Linked DNA regions of Homo sapiens: regions 2, 3 and 4 are each linked to region 1. Evidence: fine-mapped expression QTL. A gene starts in region 1. Each other region holds a variant in brackets. All regions are shown on one strand. Distances are between the middles of the regions.

Evidence for each region.
Region 2: its variant is fine-mapped to the expression of PTGER3 in cerebral cortex (GTEx, PIP 0.96).
Region 3: its variant is fine-mapped to the expression of PTGER3 in lung (TOPMed, PIP 0.92).
Region 4: its variant is fine-mapped to the expression of PTGER3 in prefrontal cortex (CommonMind, PIP 0.95).

What each region holds. Positions count from the first base shown.
Region 1 is chr1:71,046,872-71,049,371 of GRCh38, forward strand. It overlaps PTGER3 (prostaglandin E receptor 3), which reads right to left and starts at 945. Exons shown (of 4, transcript NM_198719.2): 1 at 1-945. The coding sequence starts at 706. It overlaps ZRANB2-AS1 (ZRANB2 antisense RNA 1), which reads left to right. Exons shown (of 3, transcript NR_038420.1): 1 at 1-718; 2 at 1,943-2,117. RefSeq lists an enhancer at 359-942.
Region 2 is chr1:70,569,187-70,571,951 of GRCh38, forward strand. No RefSeq gene overlaps it. Among named protein-coding and RNA genes, the nearest start is that of LINC01788, 140 kb to the right of the region's middle. The variant G/T (reference allele first, on the strand shown) is at 1,101.
Region 3 is chr1:71,014,166-71,016,665 of GRCh38, forward strand. The region is part of intron 1 of PTGER3 (prostaglandin E receptor 3); the gene reads right to left. Among named protein-coding and RNA genes, the nearest start is that of ZRANB2-AS1, 31 kb to the right of the region's middle. The variant T/C (reference allele first, on the strand shown) is at 1,091.
Region 4 is chr1:70,528,496-70,531,260 of GRCh38, forward strand. It overlaps the pseudogene CHORDC1P5. Among named protein-coding and RNA genes, the nearest start is that of CTH, 120 kb to the left of the region's middle. RefSeq lists an enhancer at 189-690. The variant G/A (reference allele first, on the strand shown) is at 1,384.

The DNA of each region.
Region 1 (2,500 bases):
AGGCAAAGGCAGAGGCGAAGAAAAGGTTGCCCCAGTTATGCGAAGAGCTAGTCCCGTTGCCCCCTCGCCCGGTGCTGATGAAGCACCACGTCCCGGGCCACTGGACGGTGTACTGGCCCACGCCCAGCACCGGCAGCAGGGCGAAGGCGAGCACGGCCAGCCACACGCCGAGCAGCACAGCGCGGGTGGCACGCGTCTTCATGTGGCTCGCATACCAGTGCGGCGCCCTGATGGCCAGCGCCCGCTCGACGGCCATGGCGCTGGCGATGAACAACGAGGAGAGCCCGAAAACAGTCATGGTCAGCCCGAAAAAGGTGCAGAGCCGCCCCGACGGGTCGATGTGCTCCCAACGCTGCTTGGACAGGTACACGACGATGACGACCGGGGTGGTGAGAAGCTGCCCGACCAGGTCGGTGAGCGCCAGCCAGCCGATGCACAGCAGGAAGGACTTCTTGCGCTTGCTCTCCCGGCGCCGGTAGCTGCGCGACACGAGCAGCATGGCCAGTGCGTTGCCCACGAAACCAGTGAGCAGCATGGTGATCGGGAAGGCCACGGACACCGATCCGCAATCCTCGCCAGACCCTGGAGGGCGCGTGAGGTTGCCCCGCGCCTCGGCGGAACGCTCGGGCGCCCACATGCCTGTGTAGGAGTGGTTGAGGCGGGTGCAGAAGGGGGCATCCCCTCCGTAGCCCCGGGTCTCCTTCATGTTGGCTTCGAGGTGAGGAGGGGATGGCGTCCAGAGAGCCGCAGCGGGAGGGGGCAGACGCGGCGCGGGCGGCGGCGGAGGTCGGCGTTTACCGCGGCTGGGGCTGGGCTGCCCCCCATGGTGCGGGGCGCAGCCGCCGCCCTACTCCGCTGCTGGGACCGCGGCCGCGGCGGCGCCAGGGCTCACTGGCCCGGGAGGGAGCCACGCCTTCCTCTCTGGGAAACCTCTGGTGGCGAGGCGCGCGGAGGTGCCGAGTCCCCTTTATAAGGCCGAGGGGGCGGGGCGCCCGTGGGTGTGGACAGAACCGAGGTGGGAGGAGGGTGCAAAGCAACTGAGCGCCTCTCTTGGCTGTTGCCTATCCTGATCGCCTGGGTTGGGAAGCCCCAGACGGTCTCCTCTGAAACGCCCTGCTCCTGGCCGGACCGGGAGCCCACTGGGGTCTCCTCCAGTTCTCCGCTAAAGTGTCGGTGGACGGCAAGCAGCTAATAAGTAGCACTGGACTTGCGGACCCCAGGCAAACTGCCGAGGCGCACCTGAGCGCTCGTCCTCCTGCTTCTTCAACCACAAACGCTCCTACAGGGACGGGATCCTTCTCCTGAAGTCCTTTAGTAACTCTGGTAAAGTGAAAATCGCCTGTCCTTAAGCAATCCACACAAGCCTTTGCATAGCTGATCGTTAACTTTTTTCCTTTCTGCTTTGTGACTCTAGAGTGATTATAAAAAGGCCAAGGTGTCCTGTCCCCTGGGGTGCCGCTGAAAACTATAAAATTACTAGACAGTGCCTGTAGACTTAAGGGAATAGACACAGGGAAACAAATACATCGGATGGTTGAATTCCAAGACCAAGAAATCCCAACTACTACCCCTCGCCTAATCCTGCCCGCTCCCCTCCCCACCACCCAACAAAAAGGTCAGCTATGGCAAAAGTGGCTACAGGAAGGTGGCATCAATTTGCATATCTGAGGTAGTGAAATCAACTGCTCCCAGCCTATGGGAGTGAGAGGGGAGCAGAAGAGAAAGGTATTCCTTACAAAGCCTCCAACCATCCTTCTTATCTTCATACAATAAGAACTAGAAAAGGTATTCAGATGTTATGAAGGCCTTAATCTATATGGAAACTTTGCCTTTGAAATAATAAACATTGAATGAAAATAGGCATACTTGCTTGCCTCGTAACATCTTTCAGTAAGCCAATATTTTATGTACTTCTCACAAGCATTTTCTCATTTTATCACAGAAATCCTCCAAGGTACTATTGCTATTATTATTTCCCTTAAAGGTGGGGTAACTGAGGCCCCATGAAGTTAAAGAATGTTCCTGAAGTCTCTCAGCAATTCTCAAGTCCCATCTTATTTGAAGCATGTATTCCTGACATGGGTCCCATAACTGCTCTCAGCAGATGAATATTAACGGTGAGATCATCTTCCCCTAATCTTGGGAAAGTCTTGTGTTTTTTGCTTTTTGCCTTTTTACACTGTCTAAGAGATGAAAAGATTTTTAAAAATAATTGCAAAGTTCATTTTTCCTCATATTTAAGAAATTAGACTTAATCATATAGCACTCTAAAGACCATTATTTTGATTGACACAGATCAACTTTCAGAACAAGCCCAATCAGTTTTGCCTTTCCTAGCTTAGCTGATGTTCTGTATGGGTGTTCTTAACTTTTAAATTACTGTTAAGAGGTAAGAATGGGATATGTCCCTCTGCATACTTTATGTGCTGTTGTCTTGATTCTGTATGAGAGTTTGAAAAAATATCACTATAACATTATATGTTTTTTAAAGAAGGAAAAG
Region 2 (2,765 bases), 480 kb before region 1:
TATAGACATTAAATATATATATATATATACACATATATATAGAGAGAGAGCGTGAGAGGATTAATAATTTAATAATAACTTACATAAATGCTTTGAAGAAATATATATATATGTAGAGAGAGAGGATTAATAATTTAATAATAACTTAGATAAATGCTTTGAAGAAGAAGCAGTGTGTACCTGGAGAAATAAATTATGGGAATTTCACTTGGTCTGAGAGGTCAGGAAAGAGATTCATAGCAAAGAATGTAGGGTGGGGTGGGGGAAATATTCCAGAGAAAAGCAACATGTGTAAAAGGTCCAAGATTGGAAGGAATATGGTGTTTTATGCAAGAGCATAAAACATGCAAGAAAATAACATAGGCACTTTGTAAAGTTCACTCTGCCCACTGTGTAAACAATGGTTCAGAGGGGTTCAAGAACTGATATAAGAAGACCAGTTAGGAATTAGCTGCCCAGGTAAGAAGTAAAGGTCACTAGACCTTGAAGGAGTGCACCACCCAAGCAGCTTTCTAGAGTGTCAATCACTATGGCATACTAAAACCTTAGAGTAAATGCATCAACATGGATAAATTTGTATTTAATAAAACTCTCCTCAGGGAGAGTGCTCACATGGTTTGAAGAAATGTTTGATAATCTACTTGGGGTAAGAGAAACTTACTGTCACCAACCTTCTGACAAGGAACATGTTCCAGTATTAATAAATAGTTGCCATATAAGGATAAGCCATTTTATTTGCAAAAAATGAGGAGAGATGCTGTTGTCTGCCATTTCCCCTGCAGGACTCTGCCTTCTTCTAAACAATATTTGGCAAATACTTAAAGAATTATTTTTGAGGGGCAACAAATTATTAGTTATTCAGGGATGTAGAAATTGATCTTGCTCTAGATAGAATAATGACTATACAGAGAAAAAGATATGAACATACTTGGCACTAGTATATTGAGTATGATTGACTTAATGATGAATTAAAGGAGAAGGCTACATGGAAAGGGAGAGATAGTCATCTGCATGTCTACATTAAAATGTGAAGCATACTGCAAAGTATAGGGAGTTTTTTTTAAGGTAGTTTTTTTTTTGAGACAGAGTCTCCCTCTGTC[G/T]CCCAGGCTGGAGTGCAGCGGCGCGATCTCAGCTCAATGCAGCCTTGACCTCCTGGGATCAAGCCATCCTCCATCGTCAGCTTCCAAGAGATTCCCCTGTCTCTGCCTCAAAGTGCTGAGATTATAGGTATGAGCCACTGTGCCTGGCCAAAAGGTAATTTTTTTTTTTTTGAGACGGAGTCTCGCTGTCTCCCAGGCTGGAGCGCAATGGCGCGATCTCAGCTCACTGCAAGCTCCCCCTCCTTGGTTCACGCCATTCTCCTGCCTCAGCCTCCTGAGCAGCTGGGACTACCAAAAGGTAATTTTTTAAAAAATAATTTGATAGGTAATATACACCCAACAACTTTTAACTTCTAGAGGTCTTGAGAGAAAAGGAAGGCTGAGAAATGGTTTCAAGGGCCCATAAGGAAGGAGACTGTGTTAAATACTATACTTGTTAAAAGAGATCAGTACTAATTGTCTTTTTCTTTGGCTTAAGATATATTATTCCCTAATACTTTTGATACTAATTTGATTTCTTTTGCTATAAGTAATTTTCATTTGACTTAATGAGAAGATTGCAGGTTCTCATTTTGCCTTAATTCTTATAGCCCCTTTCCTATTTCTTTACTTAACGTTTTTGGAGTGCCTGGAATTTATTTACTTGATTTGAATTTGACCCCTGATTAAGCTTATCTGAGGGAATTATTCTTTTAAGAAACAGGTAACCAGGAGACTTGTTCACCACTGTACTACCAGAACATAGCACATAGGAGGACTTGTAATAGGTAGGACTAGGCAAAGTCAAAAGACCCAGTTTATTACACACAATCTTTAAGTTCTTGAAAACATGCATTTAGAAATTGCTAAGGCAAAGCAGATTTTCTTAAACTTAGTTGTAATCATGTGAGAAATTAATTTATTGTTTTTTCTAGGGCACTATAAGATTGATAGTTCTACACAGTAACCTCATGATTAGGTTATCCAAAGAATTTACAGCAAGTACAGCTTGGAAAAGTGTCAGACATAGTTCTTTTGAGAGAGAAGGCCCAGATTCTGAAGCAGTATGACTTTGTCAAATTCTGGGTAATAGTTTGTTGTTGTTCAAAATATGCAGTGTCAGATATGATCTGACACTGCATATATTGAAGTTGGCTAACTTACCATCTCTCTTTTCTCATTCCAAGATCTACTTATAAAGCAATTGTCTGATAATATCAGCCTATGTTCACTAGCATCTGTGTTGCTGTCTATTGGAATTTGTATGGAAGAGCTAAAATGTGCCAAGAGGTGTGCCAGTTCATTTTTCTGGGTGTTTATCATTTAGCCAACAGAGAATCTATTACACAGTGGTTTGTCTGGTCTGTATTTAAAGGTCTCCTGGAAGAGGGGTCATTTGTTTGCTCATTCATTCAACAGATATTTATTGAGCACTTACTATGTGCTGGGTGTTTTTTGTGGTTCAGAAGTTATAATGGTGAACGAAGAGCTCTGCCCTCAGGAAACTTACATTTTAGTGGAATGACATAGAAAATAAATAAGTAAAATACATAGTATATTCCTAGAATGTGATAAATTCTATGGAGAAAAATAAAGCAGGAAAGGGAAAATGTGTATGCTGGAGGGTGTAATTTTTAAATAGAGGGGCCTTGCTGAGACATGTGACATTTGAGCAAAGTCCTGAAA
Region 3 (2,500 bases), 33 kb before region 1:
AACCTAATCTCTCTCTCTTGAGGCTTACACTTATCTGTATGTTCTGCCCTCAGGTCACATAACTTAAATTGAATTCAACATCCCTGAGCATCCAAAACATCCCTAACCACTTAACCACAATTCCAGTGATGGCACTTTGATACACTCACCCTGGATCAACATTTCAGAGTCTGTGAACTCTTCTTTTCCTCATCCTCTGCAATGCCTTTTGCTCTTGCTTCACTCTCATTCTTGTTCAGATCTTCCTCTCATTTGAATTATGGTAATAACAGACACCCAGATGGTACATGTACGGACTGAATGTTTGTGCCTCCCTTCAATTTATATGTGGGAGCCCCAACCCTTTATGTGATGGTATTAGGAAGTGAGGCCTTTGGGAGGTAATTAGGTTTAGATGAGGTCATGAGGGTGGAGCTCCTATAATGGGATTATTATCCTTATAAGAAGAGGGAGAAGAACCCACAGGTCTCTCCTTCAGCCATGTGGGGCACAGCAAGAAGACAGCAGTCTACAAGCCAGGAAAAGGGCCTTCACCAGAAACTGAATCTGGGGGCACCTTGATCTTAGAATCTTCAGCTTCCTGAATGGTGAGAAATAAATGTCTGCTGTTTAAGCCATCAAGTTTACACCTTTGTTATGGCAGCCCAAGCAGACTAAGACAGTGTTTACAGATATCTGCCCATCACAGGTGCAGCTTCCAATCCCAGCTGTGATCAAATCCTCTCCAACTAGAAAATCATCAATGTCTTCCCATTGTCCATCGAACAGAAATTTAACTCTGGTATTCAAAGCCCTCTACAGTACTGTCCAAACTATTCTTTCCAGTTTTGTCTCCCACTAATTGCCTATACAGACTCCAAACTCTAGCTATAGTCCATTGGTTTTATTCTTTCCTCCCTCTTGGCCTTTATTCTTTCTTTTTTCTACCCCTGCAACACTTTTAATCCTCATCATTTCTACTTCTGAGACTTCCAAGTCTTTCAGGACTATCTCAGTTGTTCCTGATTATTCCAAACCACTGGCCTCTGAAGGCCTACAATTGTGTGTGTGTGTGTGTGATATAACCACATATTTGTAGTAGATAGACAGA[T/C]AGACAATACTAGCAGGCATCCACATGTCCCTCAAAAACTTGGACGTATGGGGGAAGAAAATGTGGGTCTCTAAGATTTAAAGTGGACATAACATCAACACGTAGGAACCCAGCTCCAAGGTTACTGAACTTGACTGCAAGCAATTGAACAAAGTATCGACATATCTGAAATCGATTTGCTTTGGGAAAAAGGATACTTAACCATCAGGTTTGAGTATTTTCTATTCTTGTTGGCAAAATTGACTACTATTGTGAGATAAAAGATGTAATTGTCTATATTAGTTTGAAGTAAGTAAATATTTGATTCTTTTAATTCCCCATCTTCTGTGTCTTTTTCCACTAAGCTGATAATGACTGGTCCCAGTGTTGATAAGTCAACAGGAAAAGAGAGCTGAGTCATAGGATTTCTGGTATTGCCAATTCTGCTCATGTATACTCAATTTTATTTCAAAAATACAATTATATAACAAAAAAGCAGGTAGAGCAGGTTAAGCAGACAGACAAGAGAGAGAGGAAATAATACACGAAAATTCTTACAAGACTGTGTGACACTGGTATCCAGCCATTTTCCCTTTTGTCTTATTTAGTCACAGTTTTTATTCTTAAACGAATCCCTGGCAAAGGGGATGGGAATTTCCAGTTTTGGCTTATAAGGCAAACTCATGCTCTGGGGCTTGACTCATATTTTGTTTTTTGAGACAGTGTCTCACTCCGTCACCAAGGCTTGGGTGCAGTGGCACAATCATAGCTCACTGTAGTCCTGAACTCCTGGGCTCAAATGATCCTCCTGCCTCAGCCTCCCGAGATGCTGGGATTACAGGTATATGCCACCACACTCAATTAATATTTTTATTTTTTGTAGTGACGGGGTCTCACTATGTTAACTAGGCTGATCTCAAACTTCTGGCTTCAAGCAATCCTCTTGTGTAATTTCTTTCACAGGAATTTTTCCAAATGATTTATCCAATAAAAGCAAATAGTAGCTATACAATAAATAAATGTTCAGAGGAGCATTATATATGCCAGCAAGAAATTGCAGACACATACATCTCTAACATCAGGTGTAAAGCTTAATAAAACAATAATTCACAAATAGTATATATAAGTATTAAGTGAAAAAACAGAATATAAGATACTTTATATATAAAGTTTTGTTGTTATATTATTTAAAATAGGCAGACTTGTGGAAGGCAATGGAATTACTGCTATTTAACAATAATTTACTTTTAAACAATATAATTTAATTTTAAAATTGTATGTACACAGGCCAGGTGTGGTGGCTCATGCCTGTAATCCCAGCACTTTGGGAGGTCGAGGCAGATGGATCCCCTGAACCCAGCAGTTCGAGACCAGCCTGGGCAACATGGTGAAACCCTGTCTCTATTAAAAACACAAAAATTAGCCGGGCAT
Region 4 (2,765 bases), 520 kb before region 1:
GGAGCCCTGTGTGCTCTCTGAATGAGGGGGATAGAATCCCAGGAAGTATGAGCATCTGTCCTGTAATCAATTTCTGCCTGAAACCACACAAGGAGGTGTTTCATGATATCATGAGGATCCTATGCCGCTAAGAAAGAAGGACCATAAAATACAGCGTCAAAGGGAAAATGGTCTGTTGGAATTTTGATTGCCCTGAGGGGTGGCATGGAAGAGCTGCCAGTTTTTCCCATGTCCTTGAGAAGGGCACAGCTTTTAGGAGAGAGAGAGACAGAGAGTCCTGGTGGACCTGCGAAAGTCTCATATTCTTGATGAGAGACACATAGAGGAAAAAGGTGTGGACCGTAAGACCAGAGATGTGTGGGAAGGGAAGGAACTCAGTGAATGCTTGTGTGGACCGTCTTCTGAGCACTGAGTGCGATCATAGTCTCACTAGATGGCAGCAGAGTGTAGGTCCCAGGATATGAAGGGACGATCGGCTATCTCCCCTTTACCCCCAACCCCACATTTCCCACCACTGCTCCTTGCCATGACCCTTCTTCAGGAACTTCTATGCCATCTCTGGGAGAAAGGCAGAACGTGACCAACTAAATTGTTGTGTTTAAGCTGGAATGAATGAGTTTACTCTTAAAGCGGTACAATTTTGTTTTCTGCTTTTGAATGTATCCTGCGGCACCACCAACTCTTAGAATTGTGTAACGTCTAATTCCTTAATAAATTCCCCACTTTATATCACTCATGGAGGTTCTGATTCTCTAATTGAACCCTGATGGTTCTAGGAGTTGAGGTTTGTAATGGTTCCATGAGAACAAAATCTTAAGGATGGTTATTGTGAATTGGTTCTGGATTATCTGGAATGGGTTCTTGGATGAGATTAAATTTATAGGCAGTAATAACTGTGTTTGCATTGGTAAGGAGGACACTTGCTTATAGCATGCAATGGCAAAGCAGTTACTTATCATCTGCAGCCACCTGTAATCCAATGCCAGTATAAGGCAAAACTTTCATTTTGAGCAGTCATAGACAGCTTCAGGTCCTTTCTCTTTAGGTGGGGAATTTAAAATCCTGAGCTTATAATTTTTTCCCTGAAGTTCTCCAGCTCCTCTGGAAGCAGCTAAGTCACTCCTTTATACTCTGTATATTAGGGTGAGCAACGACCCTCGTTTGTCTACAACTGAGGGGGTTCTTCAGATGCTAAAACTGAGTAAGTCCCAGGTAAACGGGGATGAGTTGGTCACCTAACTTATATTCACTGAATTGTTTTATGACAGCATTGACTTGATTAGAGAAATCAGAGCCTTTGAGGACTTGGCAGATGCAGGGACGATGATTCATACCATGTCCCCTCTTAATTTGTATCTTCAGCCTGTTCAGAAGACAGCCAGA[G/A]CTTGGAGAATAAAATTGGATCACTGTAAACTTAACCTGTTGGTAACTCCAATTACAGCTATTTTTCTGGAGGAGATTTTGTTATTGGAGAAAACACTTTGTCCGGCACTTGGTATGCAATTATTGACCTAGTGAATATTTTTTCTTTATACTTGTTAATAAAGACCATCAAAACCAATTTGCTTTGAGTTAGCACCTTCACTATCCTACACCAATTACCTATATCCGCTCTCCAGCCTTTTATCATCATTAGATCGATAAACTGTTTCCGTAAAGGACGAGATAATAGAATTTTAGGCTCTGCAGGCCTCATAAACTTTACCTCATTTTCCTCCTCCTCCTTTATGTCCTCCTTCTTTTCCTTCTTCTGAATGCTTTAAAAGTGTAAAAACTGGCCGGGCATGGTGGCTCACACCTGTAATCCCAGCACTTTGGGAGGCTGAGGCAGGCAGAACACCTGAGGTCAGGAGTTCAATACCAGCCTGGCCAACATGGTGAAACATCATCTCTATTAAAAAAAAAAAGTGTAGTCTGGAAGCTGGCAGCCTTCTCAGTCGTCAGACTGGCGCTAGTGACATGGGAGTGGCTAATGCATCCTCTTGCCGTTCCCGGTGTTTGGGCCCTGCCTGTGACGGTGGGAAAAGAAAATGGCCTTGCTGTGCTACAACTGGGGCTGCGGTCAGCGCTTCGATCCTGAGACCGATTCCGATGATGCTTGCACATACCACCCAGGTGTTCCAGTCTTTTATGATGCATTAAAGGGTTGGTCTTGCTGTAAGAGAAAAACAACGGATTTTTCTGATTTCTTAAGCATTGTAGGCTGTACCAAAGGTAGACATAATAGTGAGAAGCCACCTGAGCCAGTCAAACCTGAAGTCAAGACTACTGAGAAGAAGGAACTATCTGAATTGAAACCCAAATTTCAGGAACACATAATTCAAGCCCCTAAGCCAGTAGAAGCAATAAAAATGCCAAGCCCAGATGAACCAATGACAAATTTGGAATTAAAAATATCTGCCTCTCTAAAACAAGCTCTTGATAAACTGTCATCAGGGAATGAAGAAGAAAGAAGAAGACAATGATGAAATTAAGACTGGGACCTCATGTAAGAATAGAGGGTGTTCAAAGACATATTGGGGTCTAGAAAGTCTAGAAGAAGTCTGTGTATATCATTCTGGAGTACCTATTTTCCATGAGGGAATGAAATACCTAAGCTGTTGTAGAAGAAAAACTTCTGATTTTAATACATTCTTAGCCCAAGAGGGCTGTACAACAGGGAAACACATGTGGACTAAAAAGGATGCTGGGGAAAAAGTTGTTCCATGTAGACATAACTGGCATCAGACTGGAGGTGAAGTTACCATTTCAACATATGCTAAAGA